2 separate regions of the Homo sapiens genome follow, and region 2 is linked to region 1. Evidence: fine-mapped expression QTL. A gene starts in region 1. The other region holds a variant in brackets. All regions are shown on one strand. Distances are from middle to middle.

Region 1 (4,402 bases):
TCTCAGCCTCTGTAATACTGACATACCCTGGGGCTGTTTTAGGATTTATTCTTTTATCTGTCTATATTCAACCCCTTGATGACTCCATCCAGTCTCATGGCTTTAAATCTACAGGCTAACGACTCTTAGATTTATATTTGTAGCCCAGAACCCTTCTCTGAGCTCCAGACACTTTTTCTCATACTATCTTCTCGGATGTTGATTAGATAAAACTTTATCTGCCCCAAACTGAACTCCTGATCTTCCCCTTTCCAAATCTACTCCTTCCACCATCTTCACTATCTCAGTAAATAGTAATTTCATCCTGACAGCTGCTCAGGATGAAACCCCTAGTTTTCCTTGACATCTCTCCCTCACACAATCCATATCCAAACCTTCAACAGATCCTGAAAGTTTTGCCTCCCAAATAGATACAGAATCCAACCACTTATCATCATCTCCACCACTACCTCCTTGATCCAAGACATCACAATCCCTTAACTGAATTATTGCAATAGCCACCTAATTGGTCTTCTTTACAGTCTATTCTCACTACAGCATTCGGAATTATTATTTTTTTAATTTTGTCACATTATGGTGTTCCTTTGCTCCAAACCTTGCTCCAGTGGCTCCCCATCTCAACACCTATGGTGGCTTACGATGTTTGATCGGATTGCCTGCTTGACCTACTGTCTCAGCATTCTTCCACTCTCCCTCTGCTCCAGTCACACTATCCTCCTGACTTTTTCTCAACCAGGCAATGCTTCCACCTTGGGGCGTTTATACTTGCTGTTATATCTGGAACATGTTTATAAAGCCTCCGTTGAAGAGCACAGTGGCTTCTTCCATTAACTCATTTAAGTCTTTGCTGAAAAGTATCTCAGTGCAGCTTCTCTGGACGTTCTAATATTTCATCCCTCCAATCCCCACCCTGCCCACCACACTCCCTATCCGCTTTCTTTGCTTTTACTCCACATCACACACATTTACTTACTCATTGTTTATTCGCTTATTTCCCCTCACTCTATTGTGAATTCCCTGAGCAGGGATATTTGTTTCGTTCATAGCTATGTATCTCCGGTGCTTGGAACAGTACTGGTTTATAAAAAGTTAGTAGTAATGTATGTTAATCGAATGAATAAATTATCCTACAGAGATAATTGAGTGTCTCTGGATTACAGCAGAGCTTGCAGCAGAGAGGGAGACCACTCAACAGGCCGTGATGTCCAAATATAATAAGATGTATGAAACAGTACTGTAAAATTAGCTGCACAAAGGATCCGAAAAATTTGTTAGCTTAGTTTGTTTCTCCAGGAAGCCGTGCCAGGCTCGCCTCCCTCTTTCATTCTTTTCCCGTGATTCCCTCTACTGGGACTCCTGACCCTCCTAGTCGCCAGATCACAGGCCCAACGCATCCCTTTCCGGAGGGATTTAGGAAGTCTCGGCGTTGGTCCAGGAACGACAGTCCCACCGCGCCTCACATGGCGCATTACCCAGCGACTCCGCTTACCCACACGTCCCCGCCCCCTCAGCCGGACAGGAAGAGGAAATGACGATACCTCGGGCGCTCGAAACTCCACCTCTCACGCCTTCCCAGCTCCGGGAGGGGACGCGGGCTCCGGAAAGGGCGGGCATAAGGCTACGGATGGGCGGGACGGAGCAGCCCACCGCAAAGTGGCGGTCTACTTGAGGCGGTTACCTTAGTACTCCGAGTAGACTGAGTCTGTGGCGAGCTGCGGGCCGATTCCTGGCCAGTGCCATCTCAGCCGGAGCAGGCCTCGGGGCCTCAGAAGCAGGCTTTTATCTGGCCCGAGGCTCCCAGCCGTTCAGCGCGTCTTCCCATAACCTATACCGATTATTGGGACTCTCGGCTGCAGACACAGGTCCCCGCCCCTCCCTCTTTCTCCGGGTTGCAGCTGTCATTCCTCCCTTCCCGCCTCGCTGCGCCCACAGCTGAGGACAGTCTTCGTTCTCTCATTCCCATCCTTTCTCTTCCCTCTCATCGCCATTTCTTCTAGAAGGCAACTTAAAAACCTTTCTTTGCCTCTTTATTTCTTCCCATTTCTCTTCCCTTCTTTTCTTCCTTTTTCTCTAGAATCCGTGTGTTTCCACTTCATGCCAGGCTTCTGCCTCCAGGGCTTCTCTCCTTTTCACGGGCCTGTGGCTCATGTGTTAGGAGGTTGAACTTTTAATGCAGTCATTTGAAGATTTTAAGCTTTTTCTTTCTCCTAATCAGGAGTCACAGATGCTGGGAAGTATGGCCCGAAAGAAACCTCGAAATACCTCAAGGTTGCCCCTGGCTTTAAACCCCCTGAAGAGCAAGGACGTGTTGGCAGTGCTGGCTGAGAGGAACGAGGCTATAGTACCAGTTGGGGCATGGGTGGAACCTGCCTCACCAGGTAGTTCGGAAATCCCAGCATATGTGAGTGTCAGTTTGATCCAAATATGGTGGGGTTCCCCACCACCCTTTTTATTAGCCTTCTCTAATCCTGGGTGCTTAAAGATGAACAGTCCGAGGATGCTGTTTCTATTCTGCCATAAATAGTTTATGCTCTTGCATTAGGATTATAGAACAAGTATTTGCCAAAACTTGACTGCAGCTTTAGTTGGCATAATCAAATATTTATTACTCACCTACTATAATATATAGAGCATAATCTACATGGAACAGGTTATATAGATATATATCTGTATATCAGTTTACTTCAGACTCTTGATTGCTTGTTATGCCCAAGACATAAGCACTATCTACATCTTCCAGACACTGCAACTTAGTATGGATGATAGTTGGCATACTTCAAGTAACATTAATTGGTTGCTTAAGGTTTATGATAAATTTTGTAATGAGGATTCAGGCAAAATGGAGTAATAGAATAAAGGAGAAAGAGATGAACTCTGATAATCTGAGAAAGTCTAACTAGAAATTCCATGGTTTCTGATAGTCTTTCACCAAACTGTGCCCCTTAGCTATTTGTTCAAATTTAACTTGGCACTTACCACATTGTGTTATAGTAGATTGTTTATATATCTTTTCCTGATGCAGTGTGAGCTCCTTGAGCGTAGAGAACAAATGTCATTTATCATCACATTCCCACTTTTATCTTAAATACTGCCTAATCAATATAGACACTCATGAAGTATTTATGAAAGGCACAAAATGTCTTCTGTATGTGTAGACAAGGTGCTGAACATGGATGAAAAAAGGATGAGATATGTTCCCTCAGTGTACTTGATCTCAGAAGAGAAATGAGATGTGTTTAAATGTTAAAGTAATGCAATATACTATATTCATTTTATTTATGTTTGCACATATGTATGTATATTCATTGATTTATTCCTACCCTGCCTATTTCCAAAAAGGATTTTAAGAGTCTAGGTGGTATCTCTATCTAAGTTCTAAGAATATAATGCTCAATCAAGAAGCTATGACGTTGGGTTGATGTGACCCAGGAAAGTGTAATGAAGAATTTGATCGGAGAAGGGAAGGGAATGATTCTCCTATTAAGGAGAATGAGGAGAGTAAGAAGTAAGCAAGGTTCAGGATTCTAAGGGTAGATTAGATCGATTGGAGTGGAAAGCTTAGTAGGAGAATGGTTGCTGACAGGATTATGGAAAATAGGGATGGTAGAGTACCTTAGGAAATTTTGGAGAAGGGATTGACTTTGTTTAATATTTACAGGTGAATGTCATGATCAACCAGTGTTTTCTTTAGATGAATTGCTTCAAAGGTTTTGAAGGATAGGGAGTGATTGGATCCTGGGGATAAATTAGAATATAATTATAATAATTTAAGCATGGAGTATAGCATCGAAACTTTGTTAGTGGTAAGAAATAGAGAAGAACAGCCTTGAAAAAGGATGATTGAAGTGCTTGAGCCCACGAATTGTAGGCTGCAGTGAACTATGATCATACTACTGCACTCTAGCCTGGGCAATAGAGTGAGACCCCATCTCTGGAAAAAAAAAAGGAGTGGAATGAGAAGGGATGAATGCAGGAAACACCCCACAAGACTTGGTAAGATTTGGTATAAAGATATTTTGGTATTTAAGTTGTTGACACCTCTTTGTAATTGCTCAAATTACATCTGTATAATATCAGTAGTGTCAACATGCCTAAAATTTGACACCATCAAACTTTTTCTATGTTAAGAAGTATTGACTATCGTATTCACACACATTAACTCAAAATATTAAAGTCTTGGAACATGGATAAACATATCTCCTTTTCCTGATTTAAAAATTTCTGATCAGTTCCAGCCAAAGGGAGTTTGATCAAGCATCTAATAGAACTCCTTATAGCTTTAGCATATCTAGTCTGGGTATCCACCCTTATTAACGGATATAGCTCTGTCAGCTCAAAATAAATGCTGAATAGTTACTTCTAAAGCTTGGCCCTTAGATCATGTCTGTTCTAAAGGGGAACT
Region 2 (4,402 bases), 110 kb after region 1:
TGGATGATGGTGATGGTTGAGAGACAATGTGAACATACTTAATGCCACCTAAATGTAGACTAAAAATGGTTAGAATGGCAAAATTTATGTTATGTATATTTTACCACAATTTTAAAAAGAGAATCTAAAGAACATATTCATTTATAGGTTAGGAATATTGAGACCAAATTGGTCTTCTACAGGTTGTGAGGGAAGACTACTGAAATTATCTTCATAGGTATATTTTGCATGGCTTCTCAGTTACCTACCACTTCAAAGAATTTTAAAATAGCTCAAGGTCAATTAAAAGCTGGAATCTGATAACCTGGCGGACTATGTGCTAGACAAGGCATAGTTTTCCACGGAAATACATTGTTTTTCTACAGTCTCTCCTGTTTTGATTTTTAAGAAAATTCTTAGAAGGATTATTCTTGATCACAAAATAAAGCTGATCTCATTGGATTTGACTTGATTGTGGCTGCAAGTGTGTTAGTTTACCATATACCCCTTGTTAAGTTAATAAACTTAGCTGGAAGTTTTCATAAGGAATCCTAGATTAGATTTTTTAAAGCCTTTAATTATTTATTGTCCTGACATTAGTAAGCCGAGTCAAGAAACTGTCTTCACCAGGTTTTACCTACTGTACTGATGTATTTGGGCAAATTCCTCTTCTCAGGGTCCCCATAATATCCTAAAGTTTCTGGGCTAGCCAGAGAGTGACCTTCCTTTTGGCTTGTAAACCTGGAAACCCAGTAAGCCCATTTTCTTGGGAGGTTTTTCTTAGTATTGGCTGCATAGAGTGAACCTCAGTTTTTAGAGGAGGCTGGTTGTATCTGATTAAATAGGCATCCTGATCAAATACAACATCCCGGCAAGGTCTTGGTTGCATAACCAATTTTTCTAATTATGTACTGGTAAAAAAAAAATTCTTACTGAACCTGTGCAAATAACCATACTTCCATGAAAAGCAAGAAGATTCCATAAGAGTTTCTGAATTCTGAGGAGTCAGGTAGGGAGAAAAAGATATTTATAAGTGTTTCATTTCAGTTTATGAAAGCAGAATCTACTAAGTTCTTATGGGTTAATATAGCCTAAGAAGAAAGAGAAAGGTCTTCCTTATATGTCCAGAAAATAGAACACTATATCAACATCAACAGTATTCTGAACATAGAAGACAGTCATCCATCCCCAGTTCATGCGGTCCTGTGTGATTAATTCTGTCCCGCTGAATCTTGGGTTAGCAATCTCAAAAACCTATCTGCTTCTTGACTAAAGAGTTCTGGAACTCCTGACTCAGTCCACTAGTACGTTCTTAATGTTGTCTAAGTAGTTCCATCAGAAACTTATATCCAAGAGCAATTACTCAGTACAGTGCTTTTCTGAGACAGTATTTGGTTGTTAAAGATAAAAACTCTGGCCTGCCAGGCCCAGTGGCATGCTTACAGTCCCAGCTACTCAAGAGGCTGAGGTGGGAGGATCCCTTAAGCCCAATAGTGTGGGACTGTAGTGCACCATGATCATGCCTGTGAAAAGCCAGTGCACTCCAGTCTGGGCAACACAGTAAGATCCCATCTCTCAAAAAACAAAAATCTCCCACTCTATTCTATAACTGATTACAGAGCCTTTAAGAAGCATCAAAGTAAAATAAAAACTATCTGTAGGTGACAGAGACTTAAAAATTGTTGATTAACTTCTTACTGATAATTTTCAAGAATGAATGATCTGATGAGAATTCATGACAAGAATAATGCAACTGACAAGGAAATTTGGTTGCTTCTGTGGTGTGCAAAACAAAAAGATGTTAATCCAAACAGAAAAAATCTAGACAACGTCTAAAAATATAAGGTTAATTTCAAAAAACACAATGAACATATTAATTTATAAAAATGAACATGATTTTTACAGAGAAAAAATTTTAAGATATAATATATAAAAATTCTGGGATATAATTTACATAAAATGCCAAGAATATCAACTAAAGATATTCAGTAAGCTTAACATAAGTTCTAAATATCTGTATTTTAATAAAACTGCAAAGGAAAGGCTGATGTACATCTCCAGTTGAAAACCAGTGGCCTGGAAGATGCTACATTTAAATTAAAGAAGGAAAGTTGCAGCCTAGTAACTATTTTATTTTATTTTATTTTATTTTATTTTTTCGAGACAAAGTCTTGCTCTATCACCCAGATTGTAGTGCAGTGGCACGATCATAGCTCACTGCAGCCTCAAACTCCTGGGCTCAAGGGATCCTCTTGCCTGAGCCTCCTAAGTAGCTGATACTACAGGCATGCACCACCACACCCAGCTAAGTTTTTTATTTTTGTAGAGACAGGGTCTTGCTATGTTGCCCAGGCTGGTCTCAAACTCCTGGCCTAAAGCCATCCTCCTACCTCATCCTCCCACCTCATCCTCCCAAAGCACCAGGATTGCAGACATGAGCCACCATGCCCAGCCTCCAGTAACATTTTAAATAATAATTGAAATCGTGACTAGTAACACGTATACTGTTGTTATCGGGGAAGGCACCATCAGGGTGCTGATAAATAGAAACATGTCATGTACAGAGAGGGCATTGAGAAGTCTGCACAACTCTTTTATAGCATATAATTTCTCAAATATTTAGATAAATAATAATATTTTACCAATATAAATTTAACCTAGAGAAGGCTGAGCATCTCTTCTGACTTGACAATTATTTCCAAGCAATTGATCAA[T/A]ATTAACATATTAAATAAATCTAATGATTTCTAGCACCTCTCTTTTTAAAAGATGAAAGAACAAATCTTTGTGGTTTTCCAGGAGCCCTTCCTCTTTTTAAATTAAATATTCACAAACTTATCAAGATTTTGCCAACTTTGGCAAAATTTTAACACATTTAATTGCTTATTTTTAGACTTATTGTTTGATGTACTATAATCCAAGACAAATCAAATTTCCTTTCTACAAACCTAAAATGTATCCATTCAGATTTGACCTTCCCTGTTCCCTTTCTTATTCTGGAACAACCAGTCATTTTTCTTATGTGTAATATTTTTCCTTTTAATAAACAAAAACAGGTTTCAATACCATGTATACAAAGTCATACCTCTCTGCCACGATTGTTCCTAGTAGAGTCTCATTCATGTATATTAGTTATATCTTTTAACCAAAGTAACTAACATTTCAGAGAGAATGGGGAGTGGGGAGGGTGGATCATTATAAACCATCTAGAACACATTGGCATTCTAGAAGGGCTCAGTAATACGCATAACATGACTTTCTCCAGCCTCCAACACTCTTCACTTTCACACTTCTCAAGGTGTGAATTCAGCTACGGTATTCCCCAACATCTCTGGGATTTATGACAGACCTTGGTTGAAATCCTTTCACCACTGTGAGCCTTGACTTTGCTGAGCCCCAGTTTCCTCATCAATAAAAGTCAGATGGGTTCTTGAGGATAAATGCGATAATATAAGGAAACATTCTTGACGTCTTGTGGCTGCTGGAGGGTACTCAACAGGTATCCTTTTACTTCCTTCCAGATAAGTTTAGATTTGGATTCCTATCAAACACTAAATGTCACGTAGTTCTTCTGTAAGTACATTATTATGCTGAGCTCTGAGGCCTGCAAAGACAATCAAGACAGGGTTCTACCTTCTTGGAACTAAGAATCAAGCTGGAGAGGGGCTGTGTACACACAGTCAGCAATTTTAGAAGGCCCTGCTCTACTTATTGAGTGCCAAAGGATGGCATTTCCTATGTGCCATGTCATTCAGAGGACCAGCGAGGGGAATGCAGAAGTCGGTTGGGGAGATTTTGAAGAAAACTGACTTGCTGAGCACTTAACACATAAAAGGTTAGAGATTATATGTATACATTGCCTGGTATACAGGAAGCATGGAATACATGGCGGCTTTTACTATCATTATTAATGATGGTGATGTTATTATTACAGATACATATTAACCCAATTCACCTTTCTTGTGCTAAACAAAATACAGGCCAGGGTGCAGACAAATAAAAATAAAGACTTATAGTCTGAAAATGAGAAATCAAATCTCTGTCACATTTAACTGCTTTCACATGTCCCCAAGGAGGGCATTTAAGAAGTGAAGAAGACAGAATAGGAAGCTGAAAGTGGACTGGCCCTGGGCCTTGGACTCCTCCTCTGTAAAATGAGGATAATAATAATACCTGTATCACACGAGTGTTTTGAGGTTTAAATGAGGTACTACGTGTAAGGTACTTAGGTCAGTGCCAGGCTGATATGAAACACTGAGTAAACACTAATGATTGACTATATTCTATTTGTTTTTCCTACTACTTTGTGCCAGGCATTGTTTATTTGTAATTTTTGTGGAACTGCAAGGTGAATGTTAGCTTCCCTGTGGAACATATGAGTGTAATGAGGCACAGAGCAGTTATGTAAGCCTGTCCAGCACCACAC

The links. PIP is the estimated chance that this variant, and not a neighbour inherited with it, causes the effect.
Region 2: its variant is the best candidate, but not a certain one, in a credible set for the expression of CCDC15 in whole blood (TOPMed, PIP 0.57).

Annotation. Positions count from the first base shown.
Region 1 is chr11:124,952,509-124,956,910 of GRCh38, forward strand. It overlaps CCDC15 (coiled-coil domain containing 15), which reads left to right and starts at 1,694. Exons shown (of 16, transcript NM_025004.3): 1 at 1,694-1,862; 2 at 2,216-2,401. The coding sequence starts at 2,225. CCDC15-DT (CCDC15 divergent transcript) reads right to left here and starts at 1,483. Exons shown (of 3, transcript XR_948134.3): 1 at 974-1,483. RefSeq lists an enhancer at 1,354-1,897.
Region 2 is chr11:125,064,859-125,069,260 of GRCh38, forward strand. The region is part of intron 1 of SLC37A2 (solute carrier family 37 member 2); the gene reads left to right. Among named protein-coding and RNA genes, the nearest start is that of SLC37A2, 3.8 kb to the left of the region's middle. The variant T/A (reference allele first, on the strand shown) is at 2,694.